Regions from separate parts of the Homo sapiens genome. Here region 1 is linked to region 2. The links come from fine-mapping of genetic effects on plasma protein levels. A gene starts in region 2. The other region holds a variant in brackets. All regions are shown on one strand. Distances are from middle to middle.

Region 1 (3,339 bases), 68 kb before region 2:
TCTCATATGACACTGTATTTGACAGTGTGCTAGTTGGATCAGGGGAGCTTTTGTTCTGCTCTGAATGAAGAGGCAGCATCACTGAAACTGTTGGGAATCCATCAGCAGTAACAGCTTTAGCGCTTGGCACCTCAGGATGTTTTTCCAGGGACCCATCAGAAACAAATGTGGTGCTGCTTTCTTGTCTGGTTGCCTGAGTAGTTGCAGAAGTGTGAAATGAATCAACAATATCCACTTCTCCAGATCCTTCTCCAGAAGGTTCATAATACAAGTCAGATGGTTTTGGTGCTGATGTAACAAATTCTTTGGCCATTTCAAAACCATAAGCTCTAGCCAGAAAATCAGTAGATGAGGTTGTTGTTTCGTTAATTTCTGCTGTTGAAGAATTCTTGTTAGAGTCTTGTTCAGTTATGGTTTGTGGTCTACTAGTCTGGATTTCTTCTGCCCACCTGACAGTCTGATTTTGAGGATGTCCGATGTCCGTGGAGAAAGGGAGAGGTGCCACCGTGGGTCCTTCTGCTCCAGTGTCACTTAAAATTTCTATTAATGTTGTGCTGGTTACTGACCCACTACCTTCAAAGATGTCTGTTTGAGATACGAGTGGTCCAACTTCTTTTGCCACATTTTCCATTCTGTTAAAGTCTTCAATTTTGTCACTTGAGGTACTTTCCACTTGAGAAGTGTGGGGATATAATGTGTTATTGATTTGTTCCACTTCAGTAAAATTCACTGACTCTGTTGGTAGAGTAGGTAAAACTTCTTCTCCTGATCCCAGTCCAGAGAATAAGAGCTCAGTATCTGACTCTTGAATTGTTGGTCTCATGCCTTTCGGAAAATGTTTTGTACTTTCTTCCTTTTTGATTGGTGAATCTGTGACTACATGTTCAGCTGGTATAGATTCAGTTACTAATGCAGTAGCTAAGAAAAAATGTGACTTTTCAGTAGCTTCAGGGAGAGTTGTGTAAGATTCCAAGCCATTTGCATCTGGATCTGGAGTAGACATGTTAACTAAAGAAGTGTCTTCCTCCTTCATTTCTTTATCATCACTGTAAGTTTTCTTTGTTGTTAGTACAGAATAATCTGTGGTTTTGAGTTCAGTTTCAGTAAATGTCTGTGAATCAAAGATTGTTTGTTCTGTTGCAGGAGAGTTTTGAGGGGATTCAAATGACTTTTCTTCTTGAATTTGTTCCTCTGATGTTGTTTCACTTTCAATTTCTTGTCTTACAGGGTTGACTTCTTGCCTAGACCATAATTTGGCTGGCTCTATAGTTTGGGGAAAGTTTGTTGAAACTGTGCCACTGACCTTTACTTCCTCCTTCTCTACTGGAGCTTTCGTACCTTCCACTTCTGCTGTTGGTAAAATGGTGGATCTTCTATCAATTTCATTGACAGTACCCACTTCTCCCAATCCTTCGTCGATAATGGAGGAAGCTGTACCAGAAAACTTTTGCACAGCACTGGGAAGCACTGGAACAACAGAGCTGCTGACTGTGACCAGTTGCTCACCTGAGCCCTCAGCTGAGGATGTAAACTCTTCCCAGGGGAAGGCTGAAGTGCTGACCATGGTGCTACTGGGTCCTTCTGAGTCAGATATGTGACTGATGTGAACTGAAGTAGGTACTGTAGATGGTGAAGTCTGGGTGTCCCTAAATGCTGCATCTCCAGAGCCTTCCATCATTACCGTTTCTTCTTTTGCTATGGGATGAGACACTGTTGAGTATTCTCTAAAGTCACCACTGAAATCTTCCTCCAAAGGAAAACCTGTGGAAAAGCCCCTTATTTCTGCCCCATAATTTGGTTCTCCTAATCGCTCTGAAATCACTATTTCCCTGGATGTTTGGGTTATATTTTCAGCAACTACTCTGTCCATTACTGTACTCAAAACCAGTCCTGTTGGCTCAGTGGAGAATGTAGTTTCCACATGCGGAGACAAAGTGCCAGCTACTTCCTTTTCGGCTTGAATTGCATACTCTACGTTTAATGAAAATGAAGAAACAGTGGTGGTTTCTGGGTCGGCAGCAGCTTCTCCAGAGCCCTGCTCCATAAAGACAGAGGCAGGACTACGTGGGAGAGTGGTCAGCCCTTCCTGAACCCCAGGTTGATGGATACTGCTGTGCTCAGTGGTCTGTGCCCCCAAATTTTCTAATGTATTTGTTTCTGTAAAGACAGGAGTAGAATCTGTCATTTCCCTTTCAGACTGTGTTGGTGTTGTCAAGGACATAAAACTTTTCCTGGTACCTGAATCACTAGATGTAGCTACATTTGGACTTTCTAATTCAAAGGGTAAAATTAATTGATCCGATCTCTGTGTAGATGAATATACCTCAAATGTAGAAGCCGTACCTGTAGTTCCCTCCTCCTCCTTCCTTTTCTTTTCCTCAACAGTGGTACTGGAAATCCACTCAGAAGTGTCTGTTTCACTTACAAACTTGGTAGGCACCACTTTTGCAGAAGGTTGTTCAGAAACTGGATAAATGGTGGTTGCAGGAACCTCAAAAAAGCTTTCTGTGATTATCCTGCTAGTGTCTAAAGTAATGAGTGTATCAGTAGTATTTCTCTGTGATAAATCAGTTACCATGGTGAACATTGTATCTTCATCTTCTTCTGCTTCTCCAGAGCCTTCTGTAATTGGAATCGAAGAACTCCCTGAGAGCTCTACAACTTGTCTAGGAGTTGCTTCTACCCAGCTTTCTTTGGTAGACAACAGGTCATCTGGCCAAGGATTTCCTATTAGGGTAACTGCTTCTTCCTCTGAAACATATGCTGATGCAGAACTTGGAACTATAGTGGGAGTGTATGTGACAGAAGTACTTTTTTCTACCTCTTCACCAAATGTTACTTCTGTAGCCCTTGCAAAGGCTATTTTCTGAGATTCTTGGTCAATGGCAATCTCTCCTGAAGACTCTTCAGGAAACAGAGATACAGGTTCAGTATGTTCATGTGCCTGATGACCAACTTCAGTATCTCTCTCTGTGACTGATTCTGCCCCTTTT[T/C]TGGCTGTTCCACTTTCAAATTCCTCATGGAATGGGACTGTGGGGAAAACATCAGGCTCACCACCTGAAAAATGTTCTGATGTTTCAGGGTAAGTCTCAGGCTTCCATGTAACTTCAAGAGACTCAGTTGTTTCTGTAGATTCATTAGGTTGCACAGCAGTAGACAATTCCGTTTTGGCTATTACAAATGGATGAGTATCACTTTCAGAGCTGTCCGAGAAATTCTGAGAAGGTGCAACACTTTCAAACTGGCCACGCCTAGCTTCTGCAGCTTCTGGGTCCTTGGGCACAGTGGTAACGAGATGCTTCCCATTTATGTACTGCACAGATGGGGTGGTTGTCACAT
Region 2 (8,000 bases):
TTGCCCCCATGAAATTCTATTAGTCTTGTCGAATGGCAGTATTTGCCATTCCAGGCGAACTCTTTATGACAGTCTGGAACGAAATTAATCTGTTAATTGACTAAGAATGGGCTTTAGAGTGACCTGAATGTATTTAAAAAGTCAACAAATGGAATACGGTATAAAGTCTCATTTTTCTGACAAAAAGTTTGCTTGGAGTAAATTTTAACCTCTCCCCTGCCTCAAAACAAAAGCACGATGCCCCTCCTACCACTCCCAAGAAGCAAGCAAAAATAAAATAAAATAAAATAAAACTTAAATAGCCTTTTAATAAGAGTGTTCAGCGCTGTCTGGATGGAACTCGGGTCAGCTCCAGAAGCAGCCGGCCCCGAATCCTGGGGGCGAGGCCACTCGGCTCTCTCGGTTAAGCTGGGCCCTGCCTTCCCCGCCCCGCCCCCATTGGCCTCGGTGGGTGGGGGCCTCGGCTGCGCCGGCCGCCTGTGCGGCTGTACTGCAGTCTCTGAGCCCAGGAAGTCACACCCGTCTCGGCTGGGAGCCGAAGCGCCAACCCACGTGGCGGCTGGCTAACCCAGCCGCTGCGGGGAGCGCCCGTTGCGGGTCCTCCCTTGGCGCGAGGTGAGCGAGTGGGGGCGGGCCCCAGACCCAGCCCCTTTGGGCGGGGCTGGACCACCTCCGCTTGTCTAGTTCTTTCCCACCCTTCCATCCCGGCACGCCTCTGCAGTCACATTTGTTGCCGCTGGGAAAGGGAAAAGAGTATCCTAAAACGAGTCTCGAAATTCAGACCCAAACCCCGAAACGAACCCTTCCGGTCCGTTCCTGGCTGTTTGAATGCCATCTGCCCCATCTCCGTTCCTTTCTCCTTTTCCTCCCCTCCACGGTCCTCTTTCCTTCCACTTCCCTTCCTTCCCTTTCTTTTTTCCTCCCACTGCCCGCCTTCTCTCCACTTTCCCGTCCGACGCCCGCCCTGAAGTTGAGGAAGTTTAAGTTTTGGATTAGGAGCCCTTCTTTTGCAATATCCTGGGGCGGGGCCCTAGCGTTGGGTTCAAGTGGTCATGGGTTTTGAGAGCACGGTATGTGTATTATCTTTCTTAAAGACGCCCAGGGTGGCGCGTCTAGACCTCCGAAACCTGGCTCCACCCTGGCCATGTGCGTTCGTCCACTAAGCGGCGAACTGGACCCAGGGCGCCGCGTGCGTTCCAGCCGACTCGCGAGAAGGCATCTCTGCACTTTGCACAGACCAAGACCTTTTTTCAGGGTCCTCCAAACTCCTAGATGTACGCCGCAGATTGTGGAGTGCAAAATGAATGACTTAAGGGAAAACTAGGGCCTTCCATCCTTGAACACAAGGTTGTGAAAGATGCTCGCTTGGTCTGGGGGGCTTGTTTTTCTCCGCCTGTGCGGGACTTCTCCATCAGGGGGCGCCCACACCCGCCGCAAAACTCCCAATTCCTAGACATCTAGGTTCTGCAAGTCTTGTGAGCTGAACTGGGGGCAGATCCGAAGGAGCGCACCGCCTCCCTCGCTCCTCCCTCCCTGCTGCCTTGGAGCACGGGAAAGGCAGGGATTTCACACTAGCCATTCATTTGTCAGCTGTGGGGGAGGGGACGCAGAAGCTAGAGAGAGAGAACAGAGGCTGGGAGAGGGGAAGGGAGGCAGAGAAGATGGAGACAGAGGGAGACACAAAGATGAGGAACGCGACCCAGAGAGACTCTGCCGCGGGTGTGCGCGCGGCAGGACAACTCTCCAGGCGCCGTGTAGATTTCTCCCCCTTCCCGCAGCATCTCCCAGGGACATGCAGGACTTGCCGAGACGCAGTTGGATTGGAGAGCAAATAGTTTAGGCTATGACACTATTTTTCTACCCCGCTCTCCTCTGCCTAACACCCAGACCGCTCCACGCCCAGTGACACAGACCGCGGGCCAGAACAACCCGGATGCCCTAGGTCTGCACGCACCAGGGATGTCGCCCTACAGCGCCCACGCCTCTGCAGGACGGTGGGGCGCTCCAGCCGAGGACGTCCCCCGGGGCTCCCGGCACACGCGCGCGCCGCTGCCGCTAGACCTGCCAGTAAAGTTGCTCAACTAGAGCGGAGAACTAGGAGAGGGTGGGGAATATGTAAGGAAACGGAGGACTCCTGTAGTCTGGGCGAGAGGACTGACCCAGAGGCCCCTGATTCGGGTCCCCGAGCCACCTTTGTCTGCAGTGCGCTCTGGGTGCCGGTTTGCTTGTTGAGATGGGAGCGACAGACCCTATTTCACTCTTCAGGGTGAGAAAAATTGTTGCACATCCCTGCCGATTCAGAACAGGCTTTTCCCGCCCAGGGGCCTCCCAGACCTCCGCGGGGCTCCAACAACCCCACCCCCCATCCTCTGCTCCTTCCCTGCTGGCCCCTTCGCACCGCGTGCAGGACAAAAGAACCCAGGGGCGCCGGGAGAGAACCGTGACAGTCCCCAAGTCGTCAAAGAGACACGGCGGGGATCCTGCACCTCCCCCGGCCGGACCTCCTCCCAGACTGCCTGCGGTCTGAAGGGGTCAGGTCCGCGCAAGGTCCCAGGCTGCTTGGGCGCCGGGTCGCACTGTCAGGAGCTGCCCGGGAGTGGCTTTCCAGGAACACCAGGCACTGACCACACACCAGGGGCTGGGAAACCAGGTGGCCTGCACCAAGGCGGCTTCGGGGACTTGTCTGTGGCAAGTCTTGGTAGTCCCCATTCAAACTTTTGCCTCGAGCGTGTTAAGAACAACAACAACAAAAAAATCAAAGTGCCAAAGGTCCCTCTCTTCTCTCCAGCTCAAGAACCCACCACTTTTCTATGATTTCTTTACAATTTATTCCCTCCCTTCCCCCAATTCCGTTAGTCATTTTACCCCCCACCCCACCCTGGGTTTCTTTTGTCTGAATCTTTTTCAACACCAAGGTCCCTCTGTATGCCTCTCCCCAAAAGCCCTTATGAAAGTTACCTGCATTTTTTAAGTGCCTACATTTTCTTAACTTCGCCTTACAGCTCTTTGCCTTAATTAAAGCCTTCTACCAATTGCTTCTTTTTTCTAAGCTCGCGGGTTTTTTTCTATAAGTTTTTTGTTTTTGTTTTTTAAGGGGGGAACAAAAGAAACGTGATTACCTTGGAAGGCGGCTTATTGCAGTTTGGGGGGAAAATTCACTGCAGCGCTGCGCGACTGGGTTCGGCGTTGCCCAGGCGGGTCACATAGGAAGCGTGGTGGCCCGGGGAAGGATGCGGAGGGTGCGGGACGGTGCTGGAAGATGCGGGAGGATGCGGGGCTGGCCGAAGATCTTGGTCCCAGCTCCTGTCCACAACACCTAATGTTCTCGGCTGTTGCGTCCGCACGCCTGGAGTTCTTCCCCAGAAAGGCTCGGGGCAGCTCGCCTGCAAGTTCAAATGCGGGTTGTGACACCCATCATCATTATATCACTGTACCGTCAGAGCCGAGGAGGAGACTCAGCGAGAAGAAGGAGGAGGGAGAGGAGGAGGGTTCATTCACAGGCTCCAAAAGCGCTCCGCAGCTTCAGCCACTCCTAAGAGTCCAGGCTTGGAAAGCAGGCGGAGGGGCGGAAAGGCAGCTCCCCGCGCCTGCGGTAGGGACCGCCTGCCTCCCTCCCCAGGCACTCCCACCTCTTGGCGTTTCTTCCTGACAAGAAGTACCAATCGGCTTGGGGACAGCAGCGCTCCCCATTCAGGGACTCACTCAGTAACATCGCTCTGCTCGCGGAAACCACTGCCCTCCCACTCCTTCCCCACCCCCATTTCCCCGCCCCCCGTGCAGCTAGTTCTGGGTTAGGGGAAAGGAGCCCCCAGGCTCTTAGGGGGCAGGCCAGCAATAGACAATTGAGTACGATCACTTCTTCTCGGGAGCACACAAAACTGTAAAATCAGCAAAGAACTTGGTTACAGCGTGTTTACGCGCCCACAGAGCTTGCCTGTCCCATCAAAGGGAAGTGTCAGGCTCAAGGCTCCTGCCAACCTGAAAGAGACACTGAGAAAACGAGATCCTTCGGGGACCTAGAGGGAAAGTGTAAGAATTCCCCACTGCACTCCCAGGGAACTGCCCAATGGGGAGCCCGGCTTCAAAAGACCCTGGTAATAAAAGGCTGGACAGGAAATTCCCCCAGGCAAATCCCTTGTCGGATTCAAAGAGAATACTTTTCCTCTGCCACAAATCTCTCCCCACATAAGTCTAGATTCTGCTTTCTTCGTTCTTCCTTTCCTTCAGTCTTTCCAAGTATCTCTGAGTAGAATATTTGATAATTTTCCTGAGTAACAGGGACTTCTTGGAAGTATCAATCACCTTTCATGCTTTCCGGAAATAAGACCATAATCTTTCATGCGTATATGCGATTTTTTTTCTTCAGTCAGGCCCACCCCACTGTGTAAACAGCATCAACACATGGAAGAGTCCCCTGCATTGTGTTACAAAAGATTTCCAATAGGACCTTACAGAGAAAAGGGTCAAACAGTTGACACAAAGGATTTCTGTCCCCTTAGAAAAGAGGGACTTTGGATTTTCCTTTTCTTTGAAGTCAAGTATGAGTTTATACAATAGGAACAAAATAAATCCAAGGTGCACATCAGTATAACACTAGGGATACTAGAATGGATGGCAAACTTTTCCTTCTACACAAATATGAAAGTATCCTCACAACTCTTCTCTCTGAAGCCTCTACTTAGAAAATTATATTAAACATAGGACCTCAAAACAGTAGTGATTAAAGATGAAAGCCAATTTTTCCTCTCAACTTCTTTGATTAGTTTGGTTTAAACTTATGCTTTAAAACTTTTAGTAACTTAGACTCCTGTACATGCGCATTTATAAGATTTCTTTTATATTTTGTAATTTGTAGGCATTCAGCATGGTCATTGATTTTAAGTGATAAACAGGTAGAAGACTTGTCAGGATAATTTCAGTTCTCACCATGTGCATCTTTCATTTCTTTTGTTATTTATCAGCCCTCTGCAGTAATATAACTGTCAGTTACATCATTTGGAAATCAATGTGTTTTTGCAGTGAATTATTTATTCTTAGTAAATTTATTGTACTACCATTCCAAACACTGAAATTTGATTTCATCAGATGTTTAGAATGATAGTCACAGAGCAGAATCAGACTTCAACCTTCATGTATAACATGTAAACAAACTAAGGTGCAGAAAGTTACTGTCCCAAAGTCACACAATTAATAGTCCAGTGGTCTTTTCAGTGCTAATCATAGCAACTTTAGATTCAAGATTGCTTGATTCAGGAATGGAGAGAAATAAAATAAAATGAATGTTCATTGAAATATATACTCCAGACATTAAGATAGACCTTTCTGTGAAACACTTCAAGATGTGGATTTGTATTCTCATTCTTAAATTTGAGTAAATCTAGTTGAGTTTCAAAGAGTTCAAGTAACCTGCCCAAGGCCATTTTGTAAGTGACAGATCTGCCAGTCTGAAAAGCTTATTATCTTTTACCCTTTTGTCCCTTTATGATACAGTTAAGTAAAACCTTTCAACAAAGGAGAACTAGATCAGAAACAAGCAACTAATAGCAGATTAATGCCCATTTTTAGGGAAATGTTAATAGTTAACATTCACTATAAATAATGCCATCTGTATATAATGGAACATGATTGAAAGTGATGGGTTAGATACTTTTTACATTCTGAGATGTTTTCATTTATGTTGCCAAATTTGATTCTCTAATCCTCCAAAATTTTTAGTTTCTTTTAATGCCAATAGACTTCACAACACTTGACCAAATACTTCTACAGGACAAAGGCACTTTCTCAGGGCTGACTTAAGGAATTAGAATATGCACAATGTTGAAAAGCTTTAAACTGCCTGTCTTTTCTCTTCTTTGACTTGTAACATTATTATTCAGAAAATTAAATACTTCTTCAGGCTATCAGATAACTAAAATGAAATTATACCCCATGGATATCTTCTTTCTATCTCTAGGGCAGACTTTCCCCTCTAGCTGTCTAAAATGGAGAATGGATAAAAAAGAAAAAGGAAAACATACCAGCTATATTTAGAATAGAGTCTACAGTTGTATTATTATTTCTATGTAACTGTTTTTAATGACTTTCCTTCATCAAGAGAAAGAAAATGAGAGAGCATTTATTTCTGATTCTCCAATGCCTGACAAAACTATCAGAAGTTTTTGAATGGGAAAATATATATTTTTCAGGTTTTATAACTAAAATTGTATTTATTTGTCCATTACACTCAAGTATGAATCAAACAGTAATTAAAATATTATTCTGTGAGTCCCCCTTTAAATCACATCCTTGTACTGGGGATATTCTTTGTGAAAACTCCAAGATCCCAGGTATAAATAAAGCAAGATCTTCATTCACAATGCTTGTGTCTAAAAGAAACCATAAGCCAGAAGCTATGTGCCTTGCTTCCTTGCTTTGATCTTGTCTTTGGGAATTTGGCTGAGCTCAGGGGCAGCAAGCCAATGACTTGGAGAGGAAAGGTGTAGATGGCAGATGTGTCTCCAGGGAATTTTATTATCTTCATCTAAACCTCCTTCTGAGGTTCTTTAGGATTACATTTCAGACTTCTCCTTTTTTATTGATCAGGTGAAGTGTTCTTAGACATGGCATCATCTATTGCTGCTCTAGGGATGACAAGATTCCAGTCCCATTCAAATTCAGAAAGAGCTTAGTTTCAACTCCTTGATCTGACTGGTCCTAGGCACAACTAAGCAAATTATCCTCACTGGATGATACAGTAATGCTACAGATTAAAAATGTACTTTTAACTTTCAAAGACCCTGGAAAAAGGAAGCCTATCCTCTAAGATTGTGTCATAATTTTTTTTTTAAATAAAACACTGCAAATTAGGGACAGACATTTCATCCAGCACTTTGAATTCTCTTTGGCTTTCTAGGAAAGGCAGAAATACAAGGTCTTTATTGCCTTCTTTTTATTCTTAAAAAAGAAATCTTGCAAAAGGCAAAGTGATGGTGGCAATCTCATTGTGCTTTAACCCGAAGTATATAAATTGCTCTGATAAATTAAACACAGACAAATTTCCTTAGAAAGCCATAAAACATTAGATTTTTCCCAGACATCAGATATTGAGTTTTTGCTCTCCAACCCCCAAATCAAAATGTTACAGTAAAATATTTGTTTTAATAAATTTTTTTTTCTCCTGTGCTGTAAATGTCCTGTTCATGGTTGAGCAGATTTCTCTAGAACTTAACTGAAAGACCATCTACATCACGACAGAACTATGCAAGCCAAAGCCAAGTTCCAACATGGAGTGATGGGAGAGGCCGGGCTGCCGAGAGGAGATGACTTCATTAGTGAGAAGAGAGGCTCTCTGAGCCGGTCCTCAAGGCAGCCAAATGGCTCAGCACATCTGCACTCACCCTGGGAGGCTGCCTGGAGCAGAGCATCAAAAACGCTATCTTTTTTATAAAGAAAAAGATGAAGGCATAAAGAACACAGTCCAACTAAATTGAATCAAAGATTGTATCACTCTTACTCCCTCCTTAGTCACTTTCTCAAAGTCTTTTTCTTCTCTCCCCACAGTCTGAAAAATATAGGTCATTTTTATAAAGCATTTGTCTGACTGAAGCAAGACAAACTGAAGAGTCTGGTTTCTGAACACAAGGAAGCGGTAGAGATCTTAGAATCAATGAGGCAGGGCGGAATACAATGCAGAAGGTTTCTTAAGAGGCAAAACTTTTGCAGTTGCTGTTTATTTTCAGTGACTACCCGTTTCCATTTATTTAATTAGACTACAGTGGGACCGAGACAAGGAGCATAATGAAAGCTGCTGCACTGATGGTGCAAAAAGACACATGGCATCATTAATGTCTCTGTGGTGAGCAAAGGTAGAACGCAAGACAGAAAACAAGGAAACCTCTGTGTTGTAAGAAAAGTGTTCAGCATGGGTATCAACCGGCATGTAGAAGCAGCAAGCATACATTCCATTTTTATTCTATTGACAAAAAGAATTGCAGGACTAATGCTTGCTCCTATTAAAATAT

Direction of the effects. Alleles are on the strand shown, and positions count from the first base shown. The strength of an association depends on the size of the effect and on how common the allele is.
With allele C in place of T in region 1, the plasma level of the protein whose gene starts at base 3,399 in region 2 is lower (strong association).

What was found. PIP is the chance, under the fine-mapping model, that this variant and not a neighbour inherited with it causes the effect. The UK Biobank Pharma Proteomics Project read protein levels with antibody pairs (Olink). The fine-mapping took linkage between variants from a reference panel, not from the people measured, so its PIPs are less certain.
Region 1: its variant is fine-mapped to the plasma level of the VCAN protein (UK Biobank, PIP 0.97). The variant lies in the coding sequence of VCAN. If it changes the protein, the assay may bind it differently, which can mimic a change of level.

What each region holds. Positions count from the first base shown.
Region 1 is chr5:83,537,205-83,540,543 of GRCh38, reverse strand. It overlaps VCAN (versican), which reads right to left. Exons shown (of 15, transcript NM_004385.5): 8 at 1-3,339. All of the region lies in intron 1 of VCAN-AS1 (VCAN antisense RNA 1), which reads left to right. Among named protein-coding and RNA genes, the nearest start is that of VCAN-AS1, 23 kb to the left of the region's middle. The variant T/C (reference allele first, on the strand shown) is at 2,994.
Region 2 is chr5:83,467,143-83,475,142 of GRCh38, reverse strand. VCAN (versican) reads right to left here and starts at 3,399. Exons shown (of 15, transcript NM_004385.5): 1 at 3,120-3,399. RefSeq lists silencers at 326-545, 576-665 and an enhancer at 2,098-2,970.